Regions from separate parts of the Homo sapiens genome. Here region 2 is linked to region 1. A link means that fine-mapping ties the variant in region 1 to the expression of a gene that starts in the linked region. Tissue or cell type: whole blood. Region 1 holds a variant in brackets; the other region holds the start of a gene. All regions are shown on one strand. Distances are between the middles of the regions.

Region 1 (5,501 bases):
TTACGATATTTTATTTTTCTTCAAACTTCTCCATAATTTTGAAATTCTCTATAATTTAAAAAGATATTCTTAAAAAATAAAACTAGCAAGCAATGATATACTCTACTGTATAATTTAAAAGCTCAGCTCTGCTTACCTGTTTTCATGGTTGGACTAAATAGTCCCAATACTGACACACTAGAATACAAGATGAGGTCTTTATATAATTCCCCACTTAAATATTCTTCTGCTTCTTGGATCGATGTTATATTCACTGGATATGAAATCCTGTTGCTGGATAAACATATAACTATATTACAAATTAATTTTTTAAGATATTTTCAGTTTGTAAAAAAAAAGCATACTAAACATAGCAAACAATATATTACATAGGATAATATCTTACAAAATATAGAAAATTAAATATTATTCTTAAAGAAAATCAGACTCATTAAACAAAATTGCTATCTCCCGAAAAGTGTTGAAATGTACACAGACTTTCATAAATATTCATTTTGTGATCTCAATTCTAGTATCTTCCTTAACCTATTTTAAGTGTTAGCAAAGTCTGAGAATTAGAACTTCTAAAGACCTAAACATTCAGAGATCTTATAATGAAGCTGAATACTTACAGCTGGATAAATTTTAGGAGATCTTCGGTTCCTAACATTCCAGCATAAGATACTGGGTTCTCGCCTTTCTTGTACATCTTTATGATAGGAAATTCAGTAACATTTTGCTTAGTACATACATCAGACCAATCTGCACAGTTTATTCTAGTAAGAAGCATAGTAGATGTGCCTAAATAAAAGGAAAATGCACATTTGTAATTACTAATTGTAGAAAATGCATTTGCTTAGGATCTTCAGTATTTTTCTATCCCATTCTTATTTTAACCTCTCAGCATGAAACACTCCTGCTTAAACACTCTCTTCCCTTGATCTTTGCAACACCATTCCCTGTTGGCCTTTTCCCTTCCTTTCTAGCTTCTCCTTTTTGTTCCCTTTTGCAGGCTCTTCAGCCAGTAGAGTTGGAGGTCCCTCAAGGCTCAGCTTAAGCTGCCTTCTCTTGTTTTTCTTCACTCCTGTCCTACACAACCTCAATAACCATAGACAATCTAATGAATCCTAAATTTATGTCTTTGGCCCAAACTCCTTGAAGTTCCAGACCCATATATCCTTACTACCTTCTCTGTTTTCCTTTGAACGGAAACCTCCTCAAACTCAACAAGTCTAAAACCATATATGGTTTCTTTTCTGTTTGTTGGTGAACGTTGCTGCTCTTGTGCAACTCAAAAAACAAAGCATCATCTTTCATACCTCTCCATTCCCAAGGCCCTTCATGCCTATTGATTAATCAGCATGTTCTTTCAATTTTACCACCTGAATTTTTAATATATCTAATTACTGTCCATTTCTCTTTACTGCCACTACTCAAGTTGTCGTTCCTCCTGGATAACTACAATAGGCTTCTAATTCGCCTCTTTGAATTCAGTGTGTCTACACTAATGCTAGAGATATCTTTTCAAAACTCAAATATTTTGGTACCAGCTTACCCCCACCAACCTTTTGCAGAATTAAATCTTTCTTACCGTGTACAACTTCAAGGACTAGCCTTCTCTGACACAGTGATCTACATCAGGTTCCCTTGACATATGCTATTATAGAACCATGCTCTTTTCCTTATCTCCTTATGTAATTATATACTATTCATTATCTGATCAACGTCTGTCTCTACCAAGACAACTCCTTGAGAGCAGGGACTATGTCTGTTTATTTATCATTGATTTTCCAGCACCTGCAGTACCTTAAATATGCATGTGAATAAATGACACATGTGAAACTCATCCAGGACTTCAGATACCTATCCTGTCTAAACATTATAATTTCTTTTCAGCCTAAGAAAACACACAGTAGAATCTCAAGCAGAAATTCCTACTTGCTCTATAATAAAACGTGTAAAGTTCTCTAAAATATTATAAATCACTGTGTGGAAAGAGATCAAACACTAAATAAAATAAGCACCATACAACTCGAAAGAATAAATTCTAATAAAAGATAAAATTTAGTATCATACTAGATCAAAGAAGGAATCTTTGTGTATCAATTTAGGATATAGCCTAAATGTTACTTCATCATATGATTAAAATTGTGAATGTGGTATTTTAATATTTTATCACCAAATGTTTTTAATACTGAAATTAATTTGTATATTTTCAAAGATTCTTGATTACTTCTCATAGATGTAATAACTTATCACTTTAGATTTAGTGTTAACAATCTGATAATATAGGCAAGATTTAGTCTGTCTTTTTTTTTTTTGCTTTTGTATATTTGAGATGTAGTCTTGCTCTTGTTGCCCAGGCTGGAGTGCAGTGGCGTGATCTCGGCTCACTGCAACCTTCCTCTCCCGAGTTCAGGCGATTCTCCTGCCTCAGCCTCCCGAGTAGCTGGGACGACAGGCACGTGACACCATGCCCGGCTAATTTTTTCTATCTTTAGTAGAGACAGGGTTTCACCATGTTAGCCCTAGGATGGTCCTGATCTGACCTCGTGATCTGCCTGCCTCAGCCTTCCAAAGTGCTGGGATCACAGGCGTGAGCCACCGCGCCCGGCCTTAAGTCTGTCTTATCACCACTATATCCCACTGCCTTGCACAATGTCTGTTACACAGTATGTACCCAGTAAAAATGTGTAGAATGTACACTGATATTTCTTCACAAATTTTAAATTCTTACATTAAAGGATATTAATACTTGAATTTTGTATGAGCATATAAACAAATATAAACCCTTATTTCTTCCCAAATCAGACCTGCTAAGTGACTTCCTATCAAAGTTCTCTTATCCTTTATTTTAATCATTTTGATATAGGAGTGAAGAAGAAATCACTTAGGCAGATAGCAAGGGTATGGGGAGTCCTCGGTAAGGTTTTTCTTTTTAGTGAAAAGCAGCCCCAAATCTTTTTCTAACAAAGAGCAGCCTGCAAGCTGCAAGGGTGCACGTACCGGCAGGAACTAAGGACTAGACGTTTCCAAGATGGC[C/T]GCTCTGTCTTCCCTTCTCTGCCAGCCATGTGTGCTGTAAGGAGCAGACAAGATGGCCCCAGACAACTGGAAAGACCATTTGTATAAGAAGATTAAGGTGGGGCGACCAGACTTCCCTATGCCACTATGTAAATATCATACCTGACTGAAGCAATCTATGAGCCCTATGTAAATCAGACACCACCTTCTCAAACTAGACTATAAAACTCGACACATTCGCTGCCAGCCAGTCCTTTCCACTTGGAGATGCCTTCCTCTATAGAGGAAGCTGTTTCTCTTTCTCTCCTCTCTATTGAACCTCTGCTCCTAAACAACTTGTGTGTGTCCGTGTTCTAAATTTTCCTGGTGCGCGACAACGAACCCCAGGGTATATACCCCAGACAACGCTGCTGCTTTGATTTCATCAATAAACATCTGGTGATGCTTGTTTATACAAAGTGCCACGTTACATATTTTGCCACCCAAGTATGGAATATAGTGCTCTTCCAGCTGCAGTTCTTTCCTTTCAATAAGCATCCTCAGCATGTCTACTACTGCTAAAACTGTGATTATTCCTTTTTCCCTACAGTTGAAATGGAAAACTTTGATGTTATCTTTAAAACCAGAAAAGTAATACTGATATATATCACTAAAAGTTATATAACTACTTATACTGAAGTTATCAATTCCTGTAAAATGGTTCCAATATTTACTCATGTTTCAGTTGGAATAGTCTAGTATTCTAAGGTGCCTACAGTATTACATCCCATATACTTTATCAATGCAGTAATTTCAAATAGGTTCCTAACTTAAAAGAAAAAACAGATTATCTTAGATACAGGTATTATGTAAGTATAAAATTTTGACATTTGCTGCCACCTTGTGACAGAGTAAAAAACATTCTTCATTGTCTTCGACTAAGAGATAACAAATGGCTTTTTCCCACAAAGTCAGATCTGTCAGAAAGACAGATGATAGGACTAAATGCCCAAGGTATTATATTTTCCTAACTTATAAAGTTATAGTATAGGCTTCAACATAGACACAAAACATTGTAATTACCTATGCAATGCATTTCTACATTAAGTTCCCTGAACTTCCAAAATAGTCCATTTATCTGATATCTGATTACCAAAAAAAATTGTTATTCATAAAGAACATAGTGAATGAAAAGGAAAACAAGTCCTGGGTTGCTTAACTACTTTTTTATTCTACAAACACATACAACTCTGAGCCCTTGCATTGAGGGGGCAGGTAGTCTCTTCATTTGGTCATTAATAGAAAAGAATGCAAGGAAATATTTTTCCATTTTCATCTGGTGTCTAATTAAATGGGGTGGAGAGAGGGATAATTAATCATATTCTTGAGGAACATTATCCAATCACTACTTCATTATGATTTATATTTTCTCCTCCTTTGCTTTTCTTCTAATTATTTGCCAATAAGGCTAGAGAATCTAAAAGAAGAAAACTTAAATTTGTCCATAGATTGCAACTTGCCTTGCATAAAGGAAAATGTGAAAGCAAGTAAGAGGATCTGCTTTTTAAAAAAATGATTAGAGGCTGGGCGCAGTGGCTCATGCCTATATTCCCAGCACTGTGGGAGGCTGAGGCAGGTGGATTACCTGAGGTCAGCAGTTTGAGACCAGCCTGGACGCTGTCTCTACTAAAAATACAAAAACTAGCCAAGCACGGTGGTGCACACCTGTAATCCTAGCTACTCGGGAGGCTGAGGCAGGAGAATCACTTGAACCCAGGAGGCGGAGGTTGCAGTGAGCTGAGATCATGCCATTGCACTCCAGCCTGGGCGACAAGAGTGAAACTCCATCTCAAAAAAAAAAAAAAATTACAGATCACAGTGTCTACAGACTTCATTATCCCCTCACTCAGTAATAATCAAAAGTTAGATCAAATGTGGTTGGGAAATAAAAGGAACGGGGACAGACAGAACAGCGTGTGGAGGCTCGCCTCATGAACTTTTGCTCCAAAACTGCAGCAATACATTAGGAAAGCCAAAAGAACCCACAGACCCTCTGAAGGAAGTGATTGCACCTGCAGGACCTGGGAGACACCCCAAATACTGTGAGTGCTCAAACTGTGGAAGTGGGAAAGGCAGATCGTCCACCCCTGAACACACACCCCACCACCGGGGAACCTAAAGGTCTAGATTACGGGAGAAGATTCTGACCTTATCTGGAGCTTAGTCAATTTAGAGAGCTGAGCGAAAGCGAAATACACGGGTAAAGGAAGCAGCAGGAAAATCCCTGTGGACTAGCTGGGTCCCCTACCAAGCCATTTGTGCCTCACCTCACAAGGGGTCCTTGAGGAGGGCTACCAGAGGCACTCAGAGAAGGCCACAGAGAAAAGGAAACCTCCCCCTGAAATTTGTAACAATTTGAACCAATCGAAGAGTCTCCTGGCCAGAACTCGGGGGAGGGCATGAATCCAGCGTGCAGACTCCACAGGCTGGGGAAGAAAGAAAGCCCTACTTATTTTTGCAGC
Region 2 (5,501 bases), 80 kb after region 1:
CAACAATATTAAATCTTTATGCATTTGGACACATTTAAATTTTAGAATAGCTGACACCAAGCTTTTCTAGGAAACCCTTGGTTAGTTCCCCCTTTATAGGCCTAATATTCCCTTATGATTAACCATAAAATTAATGGCTTTTCCTCTCAGAAAAGAAGGAAATTAACAACTGTAACTATTAAATAAATTGTAGCAACATCTGTGGCCATCATACTCAGGAAAAAGACACACTTCATATTTTGCAACAAATGGAGTATATAACGCTTACAAAGTTCCCATAAGAACATTCTGTCTGAAGTCAGCTTACTTACAGTTTAATGCTGCTACTGGAGAACAGAACCTGCTCACTGAACCAGCCTCAAATAAAATGTTGATCAGATCTCAACACAGTTTATCATTTCAGACCCAAGGAGGCAATAAAAGGAGTCAACATCTCTCCCCTTTAGAGCCTTTTCAAAGCAGTTGGGAGGAAAATCCTCTACCTGCACCCTCACCGCCCACCTCTAAACACACACTCCCATCCCCCAAAAAAGAGAAAGGAGGCAGCTATCCAGACTTGCTCTTACTGACACATGGCAGGTGGCAGGTAAGCCTCACAGGCCAAGACCTAAAATTAGTATGGGTACTATCCAGATGTTTACTATCACTTTGAGCAGAGAATAGAGGAGAAAAAGAAAAACCTTTTAAAGTCTATTGATGACTTGAAATGTGCACCTCAATGATTATGGAAGATGCAAATAGGCCATGGCAGAGAATATGTGGCGCCCTTGATTTTGACAAGTGCCTAAAATCACACAACTCTGATTTTATGCTCAATTTAAATACTTAAGCACATTACTGCAATCAATTACATCACTGCTGTCATGAGCATCCTGTCTCCTATTTGAAGAGAATTGTGTACCGCCCTGACCACATTCTCTAAAAATACATGAGATGAACTTCTTAGGTTCCAATAAACATAAAATCCTTCTCCAAAGCATAGATGTTGGATTAGGCCTGTTAACTTCTTAGAGCAAGCCGTACCCTCTCATACACTGCACTCTCTACCTGCTCAGCTGAACGTTTCATCTGAGGGATGTCTAGGTAACAGTGCTAGGCCTGTACATCTACCACAGTTTGTCAGCATACCTATAAAGAACTCAAACCACACTAGCATCTGGTACCTGGACAAACGACTGTCCCAGAATCTACAAAATAGACTTTAAAGTTCCCTGTGGAATACTTAGCTAGGAAAAAAGACAGCAACACTCTTCTTGGGCAAAGCATATGACAAAGGCCAGCCTGGACAATATAGTGAAACCTCGTCTCTACCAAAAAAAAAAAAAAAATCAGCCGGGCATGGTGGCTCCAGTGCCTGTAGTCCCAGCTACTTGGGAGGCTGAGGTGGGAGGACTGCTTGTGCCCAGGAGGTGGAGGTTTGTAGTGAACTGTCACTACAGCCTGGGCGACAGAGCGAGACCCTGCATGAAAAAAAGGAAAAAAAAAAAAAAAAGCATAGGACAAAGGATGGTGAGGTAAGAAAAGCTGGGTCTTTGTTGCTCCAATAAACGTAGCAATGTCTTTCACAAGGATACTGAATTCGTAATGTGCTGTGTATTCTAAAGAAAACAAATTATTTCCTTTTAATTTTGCACTACTTGCTAATCTTATTTCCAAATAGGAAAAAAAAAAGTCAACAACTATGTGCCGGCCCAATATACGTTAGTCGATCTGATTATTCCTCGGTTCTTCACAGCAGTAACACAGCATGTATTTTCTCTCTCAGGCCCAGGAATAGCGCCACCATCTACCATACACAGGTCCAAGGCTTCGATACATGTGGAATTTAAACAGTACAGAATATTCTACTTCCTCTCCAGGCAATCATCATACTTACAAGTCTGTTTCTGCCTTTTTCCCAAAACTTAAGCCCAGAGCATCTTCCCAAATTCTACGTTTGAAAGAACCAGCTTCCCCCTGCTCACAGATCGCTTCAACATCCATCTGATACTACTACTACTCTTCCTTAAGAGACATTTCCCTTGGCCTTGGGAGGAAAGGGTCTTTCACTTAAGAGCTCCGATTCTCCCCGTCGCCCCTTTCCATCCCCTCGACCCACAAAGGGCTCCGGTGTTTCCCGCCGTTCATGCAGCGAAAAGAGAAAGCAAAATGCCCTCAGGAGGCTCCAGGTGAGGCCCTTCGGTGCCCCAGAGACGGGTGTCTTAAGTCAGACTCCGGAGCTGTGCAGTGCAGCCCTGGCTACAGAAAGCTGCTTCGTCTGAATCCCCGGGTCTGCAGGCAGAGCCCACAGCCTGAAGGGCCAGCGCTGTCACCTACCTGCCCGGGACCTGCGGGCGGGGACCTGGGCCGTTCCCGAGGCCGCGCGGCCAACAGTTCCCGCCGCCACGCGACGGAGGAGGAGGCAGAAGACGGGGCCGTGCCAGACTAGCCGGGTAGCCTGGAACCACTTCGCCAACCTGCAAAGGCGTAGCACTTCTCCCTCCCAGCCTGCAGCCGCCACCGACTCGGCGGAGTCGGCCTCCTGGGAAAAAACAACCTGCGAAGCTCCTCCTTCTCCTCGTGCTCCCTACGCGAGGCACTCTCTAACCAATGGGAAACGTGGTGGGCGGAGCGAGAGTGACAGACGATTACAGAGTCCTCCCGCCGGCGCGAACGGGCGGTGCAGTAGCAGGGCCAATCAGCAGCGTGGGTGGGAAGTACAGGGGCGGGAGAAAGTAGGGAAATTACGCGCCCAATCAGATCTCGGGGCCCTCGAGCGACGGGTCCTGCGGCCCGTGGCCTTCCGAGCGCGGCGCTCAGGGGGCGTGCCTGCCTGGGCCAATCGGCGCGAGCCCACAGTGCGGAGCGAGCGCCTCAAATGCTCGGGTTTCTCAGCTGATTGTCTCCAGCCGAGAGTTGTTTTTTGCAGCTACGGAGCCGAGCCGCAGCAGGAGGAGCCGAGACCCCCGGGGGGTGGGGGGAAAGAGGAGGCGGGGTCCGGGGGAGCCGCGGCTGCTTTGCGCTGGACTCCGGGTCCCGTCACGGCGCTTCCTGGGGTTAGAGGCTGGGGTGGGTGGGGGGTAAGGGGGCAGTCCTTCTCCCCTTCGACGGCGGCTCCGAGTCCAGCCCCTTCCTTCCCGCGCTCGCTCGCCCGGCCCCCAGCCCCCTCATGAGGGTGTCCGTGCCGGGTCCGGCGGCCGCTGCCGCCCCCGCAGCCGGCCGCGAGCCCTCCACGCCCGGCGGGGGCAGCGGAGGCGGAGGCGCCGTCGCTGCAGCCTCAGGCGCCGCGGTGCCGGGCTCCGTGCAGTTGGCGCTGAGCGTCCTGCACGCCCTGCTCTACGCCGCGCTGTTCGCCTTTGCCTACCTGCAGCTGTGGCGGCTGCTCCTGTACCGCGAGCGGCGGCTGAGTTACCAGAGCCTCTGCCTCTTCCTCTGTCTCCTGTGGGCAGCGCTCAGGACCACCCTCTTCTCCGCCGCCTTCTCGCTCAGCGGCTCCCTGCCCTTGCTCCGGCCGCCCGCTCACCTGCACTTCTTCCCCCACTGGCTGCTCTACTGCTTCCCCTCCTGTCTCCAGTTCTCCACGCTCTGTCTCCTCAACCTCTACCTGGCGGAGGTAAGGCGGGAGGGCCGGCATGCGGGGCCCGGGCGGGTGCGCGGGGCCGCCGGGATCAACTCCCGCTGAGGACCAGCGGGGGCGGGGGGTGGGCAGCGAGAGGCGGACTGGAAACCAGCCTGGGGAAACTGAGGCACACCTGGAGTGTGAGCCAGTGTTTTCGCCTTAAACTTAAGTGGCTGATTGGCTTGATTACTGAGGGGTTCGGGCTAGGGGGTGAGTGAGTGAGTGTGTGTGTCTGACAACTTAAAACAGCAACGGAACGAACCCTTTGTTCGGTGTTCTGGCCCTCCGAGGTAAGGCGTTGGTGGCACCAACAAAGTGGCATCGCAAGAAGTAGCAGCCCCGGTGGCTCTGCCGAAGCCGGACTGTGTTGAGGGAGGTTGGATGCTGAGGTAGCAGCAGCTCTGCTGAAGCTGGACTGCTGCCAGCCATTACGTCACCAGGCAGAGCTGTTCCTCTGCTATTGTTGCTGCGTTTCTTTTATTAGAAGCTTATATTCCCTCCTGCATCTCCTTTCCTGTGGCTCGATAAGCCTCACATAAATTTCGTTCGATAGTTCCCCAGCAGGGTTGATGATCAATAACCAATGCTGAGGATCAGGATAAGGACCTCCATAAAGCCCTTAATGTTTGCCCCAGTTGCTTCGTGCTTTAGCGGTTTATCCTACCTCCTATTAGCATAGTCTTTTTTGGAGCTAATTAAGAGAAAAAAATACTAGCTTAACCTGTGCCTATTGCAGAAACAAAACCACCAAACTGTTTTTGCAATAACTTGCTTAATATCTGGAACCTAATCACACCCCCTTTCTCTTTTATGGGGAATTGCTGGTTGGATTGCATTGTTCTGCAGCGCTTAGGTATTTGACCCATTTCAAACAGGTTTGGGAGTGTAAGGTTGTCAATCATGTGTGTCAGCTTGTGGTATTTAAGCCATAATATTTTAAGACTTTCCCCCAAAAAAGTCCTCCTTCCCACCAAAAGAAAAGCTTGAGGAGGGGAGGAAGCAAGGTGACATCATATGCTTAATACAGACTAATATAGAATAATATTGGCCTATGCAGCTAATCCTCTCAAAGGCTTTTTTGGAGGTGATGGAATTAATGTAGTTCCAAGCAAAAGTAAAAAAAAAAAAAATGACGTATATTAAGTGTTTATATTTCCTGCATAAACCAACTCTTTTCTCCTTTAATAGGAAGTAGAATGCATAATTTTATAATCAGTCATAATGTCAGCTATTTAGCACACTAAAAACAATAGTTGAAAACAACAAAACTAATTTAACTTTTATTATTTTCCTTCTCCATCCTTTGAAAGTCCAAACAATACAATGACAAAAACGCAAACCAGTAAGCGGAAATAAGAAGCATAGGTTATCACAAATCAAATGATGCCATAGTCGTGTCACTTATTTGAGGGTGTTCTAATCTAGTTGTCGTTTAAGCTGTTATAACACTTCTACCCTTTATACTTAAACTGATACATTGTAATCTTCCTGCCACCATTTCAGATAGTGCGTTAGTGACTTCTCAACGCTGAAGCTTTTACTCCAGGTTCAGATGTTTACCTGAAAGTGACTAGCGATTTTTATGCCAGGGGCATCAGATGACTTGTTTTTTCCCTATATATTTTGATTTACAAAATAATATGAATGATTCACTGTAAAATAGTTGGTAGGCATTTCATAAAGTGGGTAAACACTCTTTTTACTTCTTGAGGTATAACATATACAATAAAGTCCACAATCTTAAATGCACACCTAGATGAAATTTTATATCTGTATACACCCATGTTACCACCACCCAGATTAAGATATAAAGCATTTTCCGTGTCCCAGAAGTTTCCCTTTTTACCCTCTCCCAGTCAGTAGCTCCCCCAGGTAAGCACAAAGTGGGTAAACACTATCCAAA

Evidence for each region. PIP is the estimated chance that this variant, and not a neighbour inherited with it, causes the effect.
Region 2: it holds the start of TXNDC16, and the variant in region 1 is fine-mapped to the expression of TXNDC16 in whole blood (TOPMed, PIP above 0.99).

The regions. Positions count from the first base shown.
Region 1 is chr14:52,469,901-52,475,401 of GRCh38, forward strand. TXNDC16 (thioredoxin domain containing 16) reads right to left here. Exons shown (of 21, transcript NM_020784.3): 15 at 612-780; 16 at 137-273. Among named protein-coding and RNA genes, the nearest start is that of TXNDC16, 80 kb to the right of the region's middle. The variant C/T (reference allele first, on the strand shown) is at 3,022.
Region 2 is chr14:52,550,000-52,555,500 of GRCh38, forward strand. It overlaps TXNDC16 (thioredoxin domain containing 16), which reads right to left and starts at 2,506. Exons shown (of 21, transcript NM_020784.3): 1 at 2,317-2,506. It overlaps GPR137C (G protein-coupled receptor 137C), which reads left to right and starts at 2,837. Exons shown (of 7, transcript NM_001099652.2): 1 at 2,837-3,592. The coding sequence starts at 3,149. RefSeq lists silencers at 3,027-3,096, 3,107-3,306.